3 linked regions of the Homo sapiens genome follow. The protein of the gene in region 2 purifies or fractionates together with the protein of the main gene of each other region. This does not show direct contact. Each region holds a gene or a part of one and is shown on either strand. Other genes may lie near its edges.

The links.
Region 1: the proteins of CTNNBIP1 (region 2) and GOT2 purify together in Homo sapiens (affinity purification with mass spectrometry; one large-scale study listed by BioGRID and IntAct). This does not show direct contact.
Region 3: the proteins of CTNNBIP1 (region 2) and TLE2 purify together in Homo sapiens (co-immunoprecipitation; one large-scale study listed by IntAct). This does not show direct contact.

The regions. Positions count from the first base shown.
Region 1 is NC_000016.10:58,713,734-58,717,383, reverse strand, and holds part of GOT2 (aspartate aminotransferase, mitochondrial isoform 1 precursor), read left to right. Parts: intron 1-570; coding exon 571-721; intron 722-1,204; coding exon 1,205-1,370; intron 1,371-3,650. UniProt on the Homo sapiens protein: Catalyzes the irreversible transamination of the L-tryptophan metabolite L-kynurenine to form kynurenic acid (KA). As a member of the malate-aspartate shuttle, it has a key role in the intracellular NAD(H) redox balance.
Region 2 is NC_000001.11:9,865,141-9,868,790, reverse strand, and holds part of CTNNBIP1 (beta-catenin-interacting protein 1), read left to right. Parts: intron 1-3,650. UniProt on the Homo sapiens protein: Prevents the interaction between CTNNB1 and TCF family members, and acts as a negative regulator of the Wnt signaling pathway.
Region 3 is NC_000019.10:3,012,234-3,015,883, reverse strand, and holds part of TLE2 (transducin-like enhancer protein 2), read left to right. Parts: intron 1-123; coding exon 124-231; intron 232-1,269; coding exon 1,270-1,314; intron 1,315-2,065; coding exon 2,066-2,215; intron 2,216-3,650.

The sequences.
Region 1 (3,650 bases), on a different chromosome or scaffold from region 2:
TCTTTTGAGACAGAGTCTCACTCTGTCGCCTTAAGCCAGAACGCAGTGGCACAGTCACAGCTCACAGCAGCCTCTACCTCCAGGGCTCAAACAATCCTCCTACCTCAGCCCCTGAGTAGCTGGGACTACAGACATGTGTGCCACACCTGCCTGGCTAATTCTTCCTATTTTTCACAGAGACAGCATCTCACTTTGTTGCCCAGGCTGATCTCAAACTCCTGGGCTCAAGTGATCCTCCCACCTTGGCCTCCCAAAGTGCTGGGATTATAGACATGGGCCACCATGCCTGGCCAGTTTCCCTTTCTTTAACTTCTGTCAAATCTAAGCTGCAAACAGAATGAGACAGAAACAGCATTTGGAGAGCACTTTCAAGATAAAATGGTTCTAATGATGTTGTCTCGTGAGTCCTGGGTATAAGTTGAGTCTTCCAGGATTACGTTAGCCCCAGAAAAGGCTTATTGTGCTTATTGGGACCATGCCCACCTCACATAAACATCTTTCAGACTTTTATAAACATCTGGGGCCTCTTCAGAAAGACTGCTAAAGCTTCGATCTTTCGTTCCTTCTCAGAAAAGGAATCTCTTTGCGTTCTTTGACATGGCCTACCAAGGCTTTGCCAGTGGTGATGGTGATAAGGATGCCTGGGCTGTGCGCCACTTCATCGAACAGGGCATTAATGTTTGCCTCTGCCAATCATATGCCAAGAACATGGGCTTATATGGTAAGCTACAGCATCCAGCATGACACATGCTCTCATGCTGGGAGAGAATGCCACGAGGGCATAGAGCTTGTGGGTGTGTGTGTGTGTGTGTGTGTGTGTGTGTCCATCCATGTCCATGTCCCTCCCTACCCTAAGATGAAAGACCAGTATCGTAGATTTTACTGATTTTCTTAGCCATATATTCTTCGGTGTCCTTAAGTTTTTCCAGCAAAGGAAACTGATTACTGCTTCTCTAAACAAAAAGTAACAAATCCGTGAGCCAAGAAGATAGATACAATAAAAAATACCTTTGAATACTCTGAGTACTCAAAACTTCCTTGTGCCTCAGTTCACCACTCTGGTTGTTGAAAGCTTTTTATTTATAATAAAGTTATTTTGGGGTCCTTTGGATGGAAACAGATAATACGTAGCAAATACACTCATGATTTGCTTTAGCACATTAGATAGTAGAAGTAGAAGACGAGATCCATTTTTGTCTTTCAGGTGAGCGTGTAGGAGCCTTCACTATGGTCTGCAAAGATGCGGATGAAGCCAAAAGGGTAGAGTCACAGTTGAAGATCTTGATCCGTCCCATGTATTCCAACCCTCCCCTCAATGGGGCCCGGATTGCTGCTGCCATTCTGAACACCCCAGATTTGCGAAAACAATGGTAAAGGTTTATGCCACTCCCCAGCCACCTACCTGTTCCCACCACTGCTCCTTCAAAGTTAGTTTTTAATTGACCTCTAGTGATATACAGTACCCCATAGATTCCATATGTGGAAGGCAGGGAAGGAAGCAAAAAATGTGCATTCCTTTTTTAAAAAATTAAGGCCGGGCACAGTGGCTCACGCCTGTAATCGCAGCACTTTGGGAGGCCGAGGCAGGTGGATCACCTGAGGTCGGGAGTTCGAGACCAGCCTGACCAACATGGAGAAACCCCGTCTCTACTGAAAATACAAAATTAGCCGGATGTGGTGGTGCATGCCTGTAATCCCAGCTACTCGGGAGGATGAGGCAGGAGAATTACTTGAACCTGGGAGGCGAAGGCTGCAGTGAGCCGAGATTGCGCCATTGCACTCCAGCCTGGGCAACAAGAGCAAAACTCCGTCTCAATCTATATATATAGATAGATAGATAGATTGGTTGAGACAGGGTCTTGCTCTGTCACCCAGTCTGGAGTGCAGTGTTGCAATCCTAACTCACTGTAACTTTGTACTCCTGGCCTCAAGCAGTCCTCCAGCCTCAGCCTCCCGAGTATTTGTTAGCACTTTGAACCAAGTTAATTGATATTTCTCTGTAAGAGGCAGTCATAATTTTTAAATGGTAGTTCCTTTTATTCCGTCATCTCCGTGTTAAGTAGAACCTGCTTTCCCCTAAAATCAGTTTCAAATTAAGTACCTTACATAGGAAAACTTCCTTAAAAACATCATATTTTTGTTTGTGTCCTAATAATTGCTAGCATTGAATCCGTATTTTTGCATATGTTTGTATTTTATTGTAGAGACAGGGTCTTGCTGTCTTGCCCAGGCTGGTCTCCTCAAACTCCTGGGCTCAAATGATCCTCCCACCACAGACTCCCTAAGTGCTGGGATTGCAGGTGTGAGCCACTGCACTCAGCTTGTTTTTTATTATCTGTACTATCTGACTCTCAACATCTGTTCTCTGAATTAGTGTTACTAAATTTTTTTGACCACAATCCACATAAGAAATATATTTAAGTCTGGGCACAGTGGCTCACACCTGTAATCCCAACACTTTGGGAGGCTGAGGTGGAAAGATCGTTTGAGACAAGCCTGGGCAACATACTGAAACCCCATCTATAAAATTTTAAAAATATATATTTTACATCATGACCTTGAACATATTATATACTTATATGTGTATATAACTGAAACTGTCTTCCAGACTCAATACTAAAGGCTTCATGTGCTTTACTCGAGTTTTTTGTTTTGTTTTGTTTTTTGTTTTTTTTTAAACAGTCTTGCTGTGTCACCCAGGCTAGAGTGCAGTGGCACAATCACTGCAACCTCCACCTCCTAGGCTCTAGCAATTCTCGTGCCTCAGCCTCCCGAGTAGCTGGGATCACAGGTGTGCACAACGAGACCCAGCTAATTTTTTTTTTTTTTTTTGAGACGGAGTCTCGCTCTGTCGCCCAGGCTGGAGTGCAGTGGCGGGATCTCGGCTCACTGCAAGCTCCGCCTCCCGGGTTCACGCCATTCTCCTGCCTCAGCCTCCCAAGTACCTGGGACTACAGGCGCCCGCCACTACGCCCGGCTAATTTTTTGTATTTTTAGTAGAGACGGGGTTTCGCCATGTTGGCCAGGCTGTTCTCAAACTCCTGGCATCAAGTGAACCACCTGCCTCGGCCTCCCAAAGTGCTAGGATTACAGGCGTGAGCCACCAAGCCCAGCCTCCACTCCAATATTTTCTAAATGCCAACTGCATCTTACTAAGTTGAATTTAACATACTAAGCCAGGTAAGGTGGCTCACACCTATAATCCCAGCATGCATTTTGGGAGGCCAAGGCAGGTGGATCCCTTGAACCCAGGAGTTGGAGACCAGCCTGGGCAACATAGCAAGACTGTGTCTCTATTAAAATAAAAGAAAATAAAAAAATAAAAAATAAAAAAATTAACCTACCAATGGGTCATGACACATAATTTAGAAAACACTGCTGTAGAAAGGGGTTGGCAAACTGTTCTGAGAGTCAATCCAGTTTGCCCCCTATTCTTGTAAATAAAGTTTTATTGGAACACAGCTGTACCCATTTGTTTATGAATTTTGTATAGCTACTTCTTTGCTGCCATGGCCGAGTGAGCAGTTGTAGAAGGCAGAGACCATATGGCCTATAAAGCCTAAAATAATTACTGTTTGGCCATTTACAGAAAGAATGCCAACCCCTACTCTATGAGTTCATAAAACCATGATGCCTGTGGAAGGTGTGAT
Region 2 (3,650 bases):
GGTGGCAGGTGCCAGTAGTCCCAGCTACCCAGCTACTTGGGAGATTAAGGCAGGAGAACCGCTTGAATCTGGGAGGCGGAGCTTGCGATGAGCCAAGATCACACCACTTTACTCCAGCCTGGGCAACAGAGCTAGACTCTGTCTCAAAAAATAATAATAATAATAATTGTTAGGGGATAGGACTATATAAGAAACTTTAACTTTCCAAGTCACACATTTTTGTAAAACTAATATTTTAACATTGTACATTTGTTTCTTTGTCATAAGGGAAAGTTAAAAAAAATATTTTTAGGAGAACTCTTGCCTAGCCGAACCCACAGTTAAGAATAAAAATGAGCTCTGCCAAGTTGTTGAGGAAGGTCAGTGACCCCACTTAGCTGTTGACCTTGCCCTGAAACTGCTGAGCAGTAGGAGCAAGCTGGCAGCTGTGACCAACTGTGTGGGCCGTGGAGTCCAGGCCCTTCTGGGTGGGTGGTGTCTGTCCACAGCTACTTCTTTCTCCGGGGAGGGGTCTTCTGGAGCTGAAGCTGGAGCCAGGGAAGACCCCAGGGAATCGTTGCGGAATAGGTGGTGGGAGTCACTCCCTGCTGCTGGGGCGCCCTGTGGACTGCCCCTACCTCCATAAAGATACCTCTAACCTGGCTGCCGGGGCCTGAGCCACACAGACCTGAGCTGCAGGAGGTTCTGAGAATTCTGTGGACTGGGAGTGGAGAGGGGAGGGGTCAGCCATGTCTGGAAGAGTTTCATAAGCATATTTATTTTCTTTGCGAGCCTAACGACACCACAAACAAACACAACAACAATAACAGCAGAACTGCAATCAGCCCAGTCCCATACTGGGCTTACCCATGTGAGGGCAGGACCCTGCATCTGCCTGTGCCATGTGGGCAAATGGATCTCTGTTAAAATCTCACCTGCCCACCTTCTCCATCGCAGAGCCAATCTCAGCTGATGCTGCAGGATCCTGCTGTCAGAGGCTCAGACACTGCTTAGGTGGAAGAAGCCCTGGATTGTTGTCTCCAGGGACTGGGGCAGGATGCGGGGGCCAGAGCAGGGTGCAGAGACTGCCATAATGAACCCCAAAGGCCTGGAGCCTGTGGGTAATGGCCTGGCGTGCACCTCCTGCCCACTAGGTGGCGCTGTCTCTCAGCAAATGCTCCAGGCTGCTTTAGGTGTTCCCTGAGCCAGAGGAGGCTCCATCTACCCCGGGACTCCTCTAGCAGGGGGTCTGAGGCAGACCCTCCAACGGACAGCACCCGACCTTGGTCCTGAGGGTCTGGCCGCCACCTTTAGCCCTGCACATGCTTCCCCTCCAGGGCTGGATGGGTCTGGTACCTGGGGCACTGCTCCCTTACTTGAGGCCCAGGGAGGGGGCCGTGGGCACCCCTTTACCCCCTACCCTTCGATTCCTTCCTCGGTCACATTTGTTGAGTATCTATGGGGAGCCAGGCAGGTGCTGGAGACCCTGGGGTGGGGGCCTCCCCTTACGGGCTCACCAGGTGGTTCCAGCAGAGGCCCCAGTGGCCCCCCAGTTCCCAGCCTGCCTGGCCTCTGCTGGGCTGAGACCACCAATGACAGCCTCCTTTCCCTCCCTTGTCCTTCACGTCACCCCTCACTGGCTGTTTCCCACTCCCTTCCCTCAATCAGGGCTGTCATCCTCCAGGGTTGCCCCCTCTCTTCTCCCTGTTCCACACGCAGTGCTGTGATCTCAACAGAGAACATAGCCAGCTGACTGTTGGCCAGCATCACCACAGCCACCCATGCCCAGCTGACATGGATTTTCCACCTGTGCTCTGCCCTGACCAATGCCCAGCAAGTACACGGCGCCCGAGGACTCAGCCTCGACTCCTCTCTTCCTCAGGAACCTAATGGGTTACTGAGTCCATCCTAAGGCTCCCCAGACCTGCTTCATTCTCTCCCTCTCATTTCCAGCCCCCTCTTGGACTGAGCCCATATTCACTCTTGTCTCACAGCTTCAGATCACTCCTATCTGGCATCTCGACTTCCCATCTTGCCCCCTCAGGTCTGCTCTCTACCCCCACAGCTGGAGAGACTTTTGGAGGCTTAGAGTGACATTAGTGGGTCTCTACTCGACTTTTTTTTTTTTTTTTGAGAAGGAGTTTTGTTCTGTCACCCAGGCTGGAGTGCAGTGGCGTGATCTCGGCTCACTGCAGCCCCCACCTTCCCAGTTCAAGCAATTCTCCTGCCTCAGCCTCCCGAGTAGCTGGGGTTACAGGCTCCCGCCACCACACCCAGCTGATTAGAGACGGGGTTTCACCATGTTGCCCGGGCTGGTCTCAAACTCCTGACTTCAGGTGATCCATACACCTTGGCCTCCCAAAGTGCTGGGATTACAGGCGGGAGCCACCATGCCCAGCCTCCACCCAACTTAAAATCATTCAGTGGCTCCCCACTGCCTTGAGGATAAAATCCAGCCCCTTTAGCTTGGTGAGCAAGACCTGACCTCACACTGTAAAGGGCCATAGTGAATGGCCATGTTCATGCCTTTCTGCCACTGCATTTGCCTCTTGGCCGCCAGGAACCAGCCTTCACCCCCACCTTACTCCCCTGCCCCCTGCAACCTGGGCCAGGCCCTCCTGTCACATGTGCATGTACCTCAGCTGTGCTACACCCACACTGTCTCCTAATCCATCTATTGACCGGGCTCTGAGCTCCTTGAGCTTGGAACTGTGGCTTCCATCTTATTGTTTGTCATGTTTGGACAAATAAATGAACTGGGTTCTAGTCCCCAAGGGTGTCTAAGCAGACCTGGAAACCAGAGAGACTTGGCTTTGAACCAGAGGAAGTCAGTACTTCTCAGGAAGGTCGCCCTGCTGGGAAGGGGCAGCTGCAGGAATGGGGAGGTCCAGAGCTTCCTGAAGCAGGCCTGTGGAGTGCTGAGTCCAGGCTTCTCTCATGGTCAGTGTGGCTCCCTCTAATGCGTAGTGATTTTTTTCCCAGTTATAGAATTGTGCATAGTCATTTTAAAAAACTGGGGAAAGGGAGAAAGAGCAGAAAAGTTTGAAATATTGAATCCTACTGCATAGCTGTAATCACTCTTACCCTTTGTTAAGTTCCCTGTCATCCTTTCACAAACATGCATACATCTGTAGCACAAGGCTGGGACCATAAACATTTTAATACCTGTTTTTTTTTCTTGTTGTTTTTTTGTTTTGTTTTGTTTTTTGAGACAGAGTCTCGCTCTGTCACCCAGGCTGGAGTGCAATGGTGCGGTCTCGGCTCACTGCAAACTCCACCTCCCGGGTTCATGCCATTCTCCTGCCTCAGCTTCCTGAGTAGCTGGGACTACAGGCGCCCGCCACCACGCCTGGCTAATTTTTTATATATTTTTTTAGTAGAGACGGGGTTTCACCGTGTTAGCCAGGATGGTCTCAATCTCCTGACCTCGTGATCCACCTGCTTCGGCCCCCCAAAGTGCTGGGATTACAGGCGTGAGCCACCGCGCCCGGCCTTAATACCCATTTTTAACATCCATTTTTTACGCATGATAATTTCACTGTGTTCTTAAATAATTTCCAATAAAACTTTTTTTTTTTTTTTTGAGACAGAGTCTCACTCTGTTGCCCAGGCTGGAGTGCAGTGGTGCTATCTTGGCTCACTGCAACCTCCACCTCACAGGTTCAAGCAAT
Region 3 (3,650 bases), on a different chromosome or scaffold from region 2:
ATGGGAAGCTTGAGGTCCGGACCCTAATAATGGTGGGGGACCCTCAGTCTCGGCTGGATCACAATGCAATCTAGGAGCCCAGGGCCCTGACCCTTTCTCCCCCCGGCCTTTGTCTCTCCGCAGAGTGCATCTCCCTCGCCCCCTGAGAGTCTCGTGGAGGAGGAGCGACCGAGTGGCCCTGGTGGTGGCGGGAAGCAGAGAGCAGATGAGAAGGAGCCATCAGGACCTTATGTGAGTGGGGGCAGGTGCAGGACTGGGATGGGCGTGCATGGCCCAGACCAGCCTGGCCCCTCAGAGCCTTCCAGAGCCCAGCTCTGGCCATAATTCTCTCACTCCGGAGCCTCCCATAGCTCCCTACTACTCAGAGTACTGACCAATCAGAGGAGATCCTGTAATGCAAGGCTTAACTCCAGTTGCTTGAAGTCTCTGCGGCCTCTTGGCCGTACAGCCATTTTCCCACCCTCTAGCTTTTGCTCCAGCTGTTTTCTTTCCCTAGAACACACATGTTTTAGAAACCCATTTTTCTATCAAGAAACAAAGTGCCACCTCCTACAAGAAGCCTTCCCTGACCACCTCCTAGAGGCTGGGACCTCCTCTCATTGCCAGACGGCTGCACACTTGTAGTTTCCAACTCTAGCATCCCAGGGGCCAGGCCGAATGTGGGGAATGGGGCTGTGGCCAGCTGGGGAGCCCCTTCTCCCACCTACAGGGGCAGCTGCAACTTGATCCCCGGAGACTGGCAGGCTCAGGGTGGGCCAATATTGCTGTTTCTCAGAGAAGCCTTAAATCTTCCTTTTTACCTAATAGCTTTTTTTTTTTTTTTTTGGCAATGAATTTTATTTATTTATTTATTTATTTATTAAGGTGGAGTCTTATTTTCTTTGGCAATGAATTTTATTTATTTATTTATTAAGGCGGAGTCTTTATGAAGGCGGTAAGGATGATTGCTGGTCTCTGGCTCTCCCCTCACCATGCAGAGGGGTAAACTGAGGCCTGAGAGGGCCGGGAGTCACACAGGGCACTCATGTAGTCCACATCCTTCAAAGTCCTCTCCACAAGGTGCCCACCTGCCCTGCCTCCCCACATCCTTCCCGGATGCGGGCACGTGCAGCCTTCCCTTCTGCTATGAGCAAACGGGTGCAGTGGTCTGAGAATCCCAGTCATGCCCCAGGGCTGGCTGGGCTCATGCCTCCAACTCCTGAGGAGCGGATAGGGGGTGTGGAGGCAGGGGCATGACCACAATGAGCTCTCTCCCCCATCTTCCCCCAGGAAAGCGACGAAGACAAGAGTGATTACAATCTGGTGGTGGACGAGGTGAGTCCAGGGGTCCAGCCTCTTCCCCGACTCTGGGCACAGAGCAAGGGGTGGGTTTTCTGGACTGGGAGGACCCAGAGGTAGTGGGGATCCTGGTTCCCCGCTCTGTGGGACAGCTGGGATGGGGTCAGGAAGCGTCAGGGACTCCGGGACACCTCTGGCCGACCTCCTCTCCACTGCACAGGGAGTGACTTCAAGCCCAGGTTCACTGAGTGATTTGTGGGCAGTGACACCCCCTTCCCTGGCCTCACTTTTCCCCATCTGTTCAATGGGAAAATAAAACCAAGCCTTTATATAGTCCTCGCTATGGGTGCTTATGGAGTAGAGCCTATCATTAAACCCATTTTACAGGCCGGGCGTGGTGGCTCACACCTGTGATCCCAGCACTTTGGGAGGCTGAGGCGAATGGATCACTTGAGGTCAGGAGTTTGAGACCAGCCTGACCAACATGGTGAAACCTTGTCTCTACTAAAAATACAAAAAAATTAGCTGGATGTGCTCGCTTGAACCCAGGAGGCGGAGGTTGCAGTGGGCCATTACTCCAGCCTGGGTAACGGAGCGAGACTCAAAAAAAAAAAAAATACATTTTACAGATGAGTAAACTGAGGCAGCAGAAGATTTCATAATCTTCCCATGGTGGGTCATGGGTACCCATTCTAGAGATTGGGGTGGGAGTCGGGAGGAGGATAGAGAAGGGACTCTTCTTTCCCTCTCATTTCAACTCTGCTCAACGTCACCTCCTCAAACCCAGGACCAACCCTCAGAGCCCCCCAGCCCGGCTACCACCCCCTGCGGAAAGGTACCCATCTGCATTCCTGCCCGTCGGGACCTGGTGGACAGTCCAGCCTCCTTGGCCTCTAGCCTTGGCTCACCGCTGCCTAGAGCCAAGGAGCTCATCCTGGTAAGGAGGAGGGGAGGGCCTTGAAACTCACTTTATTCATCCCGGGGGCCCCGAAGCAGACGCTACCCCATGATGCAGAGGGCAGTGATGAGAAATCAGCCAGCCGGGCTGGCATTGTCCACCCTTTCCCTGTGCTTTTTTTTTTAAACCTCCTGCTTGGACTGACTTTGTTGAACCTCAGTAAATATTAAAAGGCAACTTTGTAAAGAAGCTTTGTAGATAAATTTTAAAAGGCAATTCACTACCTTACATGGAAAGCAGGTCTCTCTCTTGCAATCAATAGGAAATCCCATGGAAATAAACATAGTGAAAGCCCAGCCAGCTAGGCTGGACTCAGGCCTGCATGTGTTGAGCCCTTCCAGAGGCGCTTAGAGACACACCGGCCCCAAGCTGAGATGTTGTCCCCGGAAGGAAAGATAATTAATATAGGAACAAGTTTTCAGTTGGACCTCCTGGAGTTTAATGCCAGGCATGTGAGCCATCTAAAAGCACCCCCAGGGCATTAGAAATTCAGCTCCTTTTGCAGCTCCCCTCACCCCAAATCTTCTCCAGACCCCTCCCCTACACTTACCAGGGAAGAGTATGTCGGTTTCTAGGCCTCCCCTCCCGGTTTCAAGGCCTCCCTTCCTGGCAGGTTACCATGGCAACCGCCAGAGGTTGGGGCTCCCATTCCATCTTAAGTGCCCACCTCCCACTGCGGGAAAAACCTTACAAGGGGATGGGTCAGCTCCGTTGTATTGGAGAAGCCCTCAGGGGTCCTCCCTGACCCCACAGTCGTCCCATCCACTCTCTCGCGGGTGCCGGTGTTGCGTGGCTGTCACTGTTTGTGCGATGGTGTCATGGGAAGCCGAGACAGACGCAAGACAAGGATGCGAAGTTTCTTGGGAGGCAGGGGAGGCAGGGGAGGCGATGACATGAAGCCGAGATAACAGAGCCTGCCCCTAGATGGAGGTCCAGCTGCTGCTTTCCTCAGAGCTCTCCTTGGGGAGGGACAGCTCTGGGTGACACCTCCCTCTCTGTGGGGGCTCAAGGAGGATTGCAGTGTGTGCTAGGCACTCTTCCTTCACCTGGGAATATGCCGCTGTGGGGTCTGCCTCTCCACGAGCCCATCCCGGAGTTTCTAATTCCTTGTTGTTCAAGAATCTCAACAGTGGCTGGGTGCTGTGGCTCATCCCTGTCATCCCAGGGCTTTGGGAGGCCAAGGCAGGACGATCACTCGAGAACAGGAGTTGGAGACCAGCCTGGGCAACATAGTGAGACCTTGTCTCTATGAAAAATTTAAAAAGTTAGCCGGGCATGGAGTCGTGTGCCTGTAGTGCCAGCTACTTGGGAGGCTCAGTCGGGAGGATCACTCGAGCATGGGAGGTTGAGGCTGCAGTGAGCTATGATCGTGCCTTTTGTTTGTTTTTCGTTTTGGAGATGGAGTCTCGCTCTG